2 separate regions of the Homo sapiens genome follow, and region 2 is reported to be linked to region 1. The links are microRNA targets in miRTarBase. Many come from high-throughput screens and were not tested one by one. Region 1 holds a microRNA gene; the other region holds the end of a gene's coding sequence.
The links. The annotated mature microRNA hsa-miR-7152-5p reads UUUCCUGUCCUCCAACCAGACC and lies in region 1 at 1,647-1,668, opposite strand. An mRNA with a match to its seed (bases 2 to 7 or 8) in the 3' UTR can be bound and repressed. Matches are read on the target gene's strand: a 7mer-m8 pairs with bases 2 to 8, a 7mer-A1 pairs with bases 2 to 7 and ends in A, and an 8mer does both.

Region 1 (3,000 bases):
CTTAGAACCTTCTTACCCAGAAATGAGTTATTCACCTAAGTTTTCTTCATTTATTGTTTAGTGTTTTCTACTTTTTAATATTTTCTTTTGGTTTTTATTTTGGTGTCTGACATGGGGGAGAATCTACACTAAATATTACATTATTATTATATTAGATTACATACAGATTATAATAATTGGATGTAATTGATTAGATTAAATAGGTTTTTGCACACTGAATAAGTAGCTTCCCCATTGGCCTCATTGCTTCCTTTATCACATCATATTTTATTCTTTAATTTACCAGTATCTGTTTCTGGGCTACTTTGTCCTGGAGTCTTGTGCCCATATTGCATGGCCTTAAATACTGTAGCTTTATAATATGTTATAAAATCTGGTAAGCCAAATCTGGCTTATTATACTTATGTTTTTCAAAATTTTCTTATTCTTCCAGAAGTTATATTTGATTTTGATGGGAATCATGTTGATCCTATTTTGACTTTAAAATAGTCAGTCTTTCCATCTGGGAATTCAAATGGAGAATACTTAGGAATCTTGTAGGCCAGGCGTGGTGGCTCACACCTGTAATCCCAGCACTTTGGGAGGCTGAGGCGAGTGGATCACCTGAGGTCAGGAGTTTGCGACCAGCCTGGCCAACAGGGTGAAACCCCGTCTCTACTAAAAATACAAAAATTAGCTGGGTGTGGTGGTGGGCGCCTGTAATCCCAGCTACTCGGGAGGCTGAGGCAGGAGAATCACTTGAACCTGGGAGGCTGAGGTTGCAGTGAGCCGAGATTGTGCCATTGCACTCCAGCCTGGGCAACAAGAGCAAAACTCCGTCTTAAAAAAAAAAAAAGAAAAGAAAAGAAAAAGAAAGAAAGGAAAAAAGAATCTTGTTTTGCAGGCAAGATACAGAAGCTCAGAGGAGGGAAGCAGGGGCCCAGGTCTCCTGACTCCCTCTCCAGTGTGTTCTACACTCACCCTGCTGCCCATCTTTCTCCCCACTGGAGGCAAACTCCGTGTCCAACCTGAGGCTCCAGTCCCCTGTGACCACCAACCGGCCCCTGGTTGTGGGGTGCTGGGGCCTGTCCCCTGCTTACCAGGCGGGCAGTTCTCTAGCAGATGGACAGTGAGGGTGGCAGGGCTAAAGGTGGGCCGGTTGTCATTGTCATCCAGGATGGTGATGAGCAGGTGGGCCGTGCTGTTGAGCAGCCCGATGTCCTCAGCCAGCAGCAGCAGCTCCAGGATGGGTGGCGAGAATGCCTCCCGGTCAATGATGACACCTGACCTCACGGTCACCACACCTGGCACCCGGTGCCGCCAGCCAGGGAAACACACAGAAAAGGGGTGCGGTGGGAAGACAGGGCAAGAACCAACAGGGAGAGAGCAGAGAAAGACAGGGGCACCATGGGACAGAGATGAAAGAGGAGCAGAGGCAGTAACAAAATGACTTTCTCCCCCACAGGCTCAACCACCCGTGCTGAGGGAGGGCCCCATGCATTTCCTGTGGTTGTCCCCTCTGCAGGTGCCCTCTGCTGTCTTCAAGACTCTTGCCTGGGAAGAGTGACCCAGGGCACAGGGTTGACCGTCTCTGTTGACAGATGTGCTTTCCTGTCGGCACCTGTCACCAAAGCGGCCTCCTGTCCAGGACCAGACGGATGTGGCATGGTCTGGTTGGAGGACAGGAAAGTCGCTCTGGCTACTTCTGCTGGACTAGGGGCCTGAGCCTCTGGCCTGCGCATGGGGAGATGACGGGAGTGGGCTGGGGGGCTCCCGGCCCAGGCTGAGAGTTCGTGCACCAACAGAGGTCCTGTGTATCGTCTCCAAGCCTCTTCCCACGTCCCCCTGCCAGGCCACTGGGTGATATAACCCAGCTGCAAGATGGGGACTCTGGGCTGTGAAAAATGGGGTCTCCACGGACAGCCTGGGTCCAGCACTGAGAAGGGAGGCCCTCAATCCAGCAGTGTGGCCATCCCCACCCCAGAATCAGGCTGGGAGTGCTGGGTGGCACAGAGGCCTCACCGGTGCTGCTGTTGATGTCAAAGAGGCCACTCTGGGCACCCAGCAGCTGGTAGGTCACCACGGCGTAGATGTCTTGGTCTGCATCCAGGGCCAGGATGGGCCCATTGAGCACCGTGAGAGGGGTGCCTGGGCCAGAAGGAGAGGGGTCACCACAAGACCAACCCAGCCCCCTGCCCTCCCACCTCCCCTGCCCTGTCCCGGTGAGCCATGGCTGACGATGGATGAGAGGGGAGGGAGGTGAGGTGGACAGGGTGGGGAGGCCCTGGGGGCGGGCCTGCGGCAGCCTTGGCAGACTGAACGCAGATGCCTGGGGAGCGGCCTCAAAGCCCTGCTGGGGAGAAAACATGAGAGTGGTGAGCAAGGCCCCGGCTGCCCAGAGCCACATCTGCCTTCCCAGCAGCCTTTGAGGCTGGCCGCTCCTCGGGAGGGTCTGGGGCTCCCTGACATCCCCTCCCCATGTGTGGGTCTCGCCTGTCAACACATGTGTTCACACAATGCTCTGCCTTTGGGGGCCTGGCCATACATGACTAGAAAAACCCACTCATGTGTGCATCAAGTTCTGTGTTCACATGGCCACAGGCACTTGTCCAGGAGCACGCACAGGCCTGGGATTCCCTGGTTGTGCACTCGTGTGCCTCTGCAGGTGGGCATGTCTGCACACGAGCGCATCAGTGGGCACCCATGTACCTATATGTGTCTGTGCACATGTGTAACCCCACGCACATGCCTTGGTATGGACACACACGGGCACATGTGTGAGCATACACACAGACAGGTTTAAGAATGAAATTCACCTAGGGGGGATGCCCAGCCAGAGATGAGGAACAGGGGCTGGGGAGACTGGAGGAGTGCAGGTGCCACCTCAGGGGACATCACAGAGGAGATTCTGTCCCTCTGGAGGGAGGTGAGCCTGGTCAGTGCATGTGTGTGGGGAGAGGGCTACACTGGCCTACCCAGGACCCCCTGACCTCCCACTTCTAGTTATAGATGCTCCCCAGG
Region 2 (3,502 bases), not on the chromosome of region 1:
CCAAATGCTACCCAGGCAGTGCTCTATAATTTATTTGCACACCTGTATGTGTGGTGCCACGTTAGCCACTAAATCTGAACTTTTACCCTGCTTTCATCATGGATTTTTTTGTGTAACCTGAAACAAGTCACCAGTGCTCACTGTGCCTGTTTCCTCATTTGCAACAAGAGGATAATTCCGACCTACCTCTGAAAAATGTGTAGATTAAATGAGTTTTTAAAGCACTTTAGAAAATATAAGGGAGAAAATGATTTCTTAAGATATCACTGCCTAATATAGACAGGTATATTTGAAAGCTAAATACAGGTTAATGCTTTTGATAATGTATTGTTCCTGTTGCAAATTTAAGCATTATATATTAGGAGACTAAACATTGAAAACTTTCACTGATTTTTAAATTGGAGTAATAGCCTAAATAAGTGTAAATAATCTTTATCAAAATTTAGTGTTTATCTACAAAGATGCGAATCAGTCAAGGGGAAATGTGTATGCAATGTGTGTGTATATGATGTATGCGAACATATGTGATTTTGGGGTACTAAAGCACAAAAAAATCCCCCATAAAATAAACCTTCCTGAAAAGACTGATCATAAACTTTTTCACTCCAAGCAGATGTGAATCAAGATGTTAGGTTTATGGTGAGTTAGCTTTGAGGTGTGTTGCCCTAATACTAGCCAGCGTTGTTGTAGCCATATTCCCTGCTGCTGCACGCCGAATTGAAAATCCATCTCTTACCTCTTCTCTATGAAGCAAGCCAGGTATGTCTTGCTTAAGTATTTCTTCTCCATGAATGGCCTTAACATTATTTTGTATTCACGTGTACTGTTTAACTGAGGGTCTCAAAGCACTTTAAACTGTTGTGTTCTATTTCCACTCGTCTGGCCTGCCTCATTTTTCTAGGCCCTTTTGTAAGCTGTAATTTTTTATTACCACTCATGTTCTTTCTACACTGACACTATTCATTAAGAACATCAAGCTTCATCTCTGCTTACAGAATCTCACCTTATTGAGTGGGTTCCACTTTATTTTTCATTTGTTATCTACATTTTGAAGGGTTTATGTGCAAAGTGAAAACAAATTTTGAAAAATAAGACAAATCCATTCTCTTCTTCAATTCAGTCTAATATGCATTGTAGTGTCTTTTAATCAGTCTTATCCTCTAAGTCAACTTCATTTTCCTCTTCGTGAATACCCATAGCAATATGTAAGATTTTATTGAAGTTTCCTGTGATAACTGAGGAATACTTTGCTATGCCTCACTGCCCAATAGGGTGGGTCATCAATTAGGAGAAATCCCAAATTATAAAAGCCAACATATGCCGTGACCTACGTAGGAAAAGATGTATTTGTGCATCTTCTTTCTGGGTAGTTAAAAATTACTCCCTCTTTTCTCTAGCATTTTGACATTTCAGACTCAATGCTCTGATCTCTAGGGAGTGTGATTATTCAAACTAATGAGAGGACAAGAAGACACAGTTTTAGAATCTACTGCTGCTAAAGCACATTAAAAACAAATCCTGGTTTTTAATGTATGCATAGTTTCATATTTAATGAATATGCTTTCATTAAATAGGGAGGTAGATTTGAAAAAACCGTTATAAAGAAATGTGCCTTTTGGGGAATGAATACTTTTGTTCATGTCTAGCCCACTGGGAATTTTGTTTTCACCTTATACTGAGTCCTTTTTCTAATGTAAAAATATTTCTTCCAAGTTTGATTTCTGTATCAGGGTAACATTGAGAACACACATATTTCTGTTTGAGGATTTGTGACTTCCTATGGAAACAGTCTTGCATCTATGTATTTACAAATGAAATTTAAAGTATTCTTAAAGCTTTGCCTTAAATACTGCTTGCATACTGATTTACTTAATGCTAAGCATGGCAGGGGTTATAAATTTAAATACTATAAGACCTGGCTGAATCCCAGATGTATCAATAAATTGTTATAGTAGCTTATGGAAAATGCTATTAAAGATAAATTTTCATACATTGTATTTTTAGTCAAGTAAAATATGGATGAAAATTAATAAAGTACTGTCAAGGGAAAAAATATGTATAACCTTGTAAGTGATTTTTCTCCCCTTTATTAAAAAAAGATTATACAATTTGGGCTCATATTAAAAAATTCAAACAGTAGAACAGTGTGTACGTAGAAGGCATTCCCCACTCCCACTCCAGGAGTTTGGGTATCATTCTAGAAGTGTTCTGTCAATACATAAGCATTTTTCATTCAAACACACACACACACACACGGGATCCCATATTCTATAATTTTTGTGTTTTAAAAAACCACCATATTTCATAGATATCTTTCCACTTAAGCACATTCGGAGCTCCATCATTTTTTTTTTTTTTTGAGACAGAGTTTTGCTCTTGTTGCCCAGGCTGGAGTGCAATGGCGCTATCTCAGCTCACTGCAACCTCTGCCTCCCGGGTTCAAGCAATTCTCCTGCCTCGGCCTCCCAAGTAGCTGGGATTACAGGCATGCACCACCATGCCCAGCTAATTTTGTGTTCTTAGTAGAGACAGGGTTTCTCCATATTGGTCAGGCTTGGTCTCAAACTCCCGATCTCAGGTGATCTGCCCGCCTCAGCCTCCCAAAGTGCTGGGATTACAGGCAAGAGCCACCGCGCCCAGCACGGTCTTTTCAAAGACCAGATAATTTATTTAACCAACTGTCTAAAGATGGACATTGTGATTGATCACACTATTTTATATATAACATTGAATGGAGTGGGTGAGTCCTAAGAAACATTCTCTCCTAAAAGTTTACATTTTTCATTGACTAGAAGTGACCAAAATAGATTCTACTGATGAGAAAAGACTTTTGAAAGCAGTATGGTCAGGTTGGCAGGTGAATGGCCTCAAGAGCTTAGGATTTCGTTGCTACTAAAAGAACAAGACTATTCAGTTGTGAAACAATGATTTAGTCAAATACTGATGCTGTCTCAGATGAGTAACTGCAAATCACTTCAAAAGGTAGAAGGGTAGCTTAAATGTGAAAAAGGTTACTGCCACTTCATGTAGGGAAGATAACAAGCATTTGCAAATAGCAAAATAGAAAGAAATAAATGGTTTCAGTACAAGCTCTTATATTCACTTGGCATCAAAATAGTCCAAAATAAATCTGAGAACCACGGCAAGTTATAGCTGTGTTAATGACAAAATGTGATATTTACTGTTTAAATTTAGCAGCTGGGAGAATCCCCTTATAAGGAAGACAGAAAATACGTTTATATCCAGACTGCATTACTCTTTGGAAAAATATGACCAATCAGATTTTGGGTATTATTGTTACAACCTTTTCCTTCACCTCTGCATCATGGTGATCAACTAAAGCTCTTATTTTCTGGGCACATTCTTCTCCATGTAACAGGAAAAACAATGAACCTTCAGTGAAAGTAGGCTGCACAGCTAAATGGCCTTCTATTTTGAGGCAGTTCTTTATATTCTGAAATAGCGTAAGTACTCGAAGAAGAATCTCCTTTGCTACGTGGCT

Region 2: the mRNA of ARMC10 is a reported target of hsa-miR-7152-5p. The part of its 3' UTR that is shown has no 7-base or 8-base seed match.

The regions. Positions count from the first base shown.
Region 1 is chr10:71,789,415-71,792,414 of GRCh38, reverse strand. It overlaps MIR7152 (microRNA 7152), which reads right to left and starts at 1,668; the gene lies at 1,615-1,668. CDH23 (cadherin related 23) reads right to left here. Exons shown (of 70, transcript NM_022124.6): 46 at 2,002-2,127; 47 at 1,080-1,283. RefSeq lists an enhancer at 1,228-2,127.
Region 2 is chr7:103,098,329-103,101,830 of GRCh38, reverse strand. It overlaps ARMC10 (armadillo repeat containing 10), which reads right to left. Exons shown (of 7, transcript NM_031905.5): 7 at 2,072-3,502. The coding sequence ends at 3,278. NAPEPLD (N-acyl phosphatidylethanolamine phospholipase D) reads left to right here. Exons shown (of 5, transcript NM_001122838.3): 5 at 1-2,055. Among named protein-coding and RNA genes, the nearest start is that of ARMC10, 25 kb to the right of the region's middle.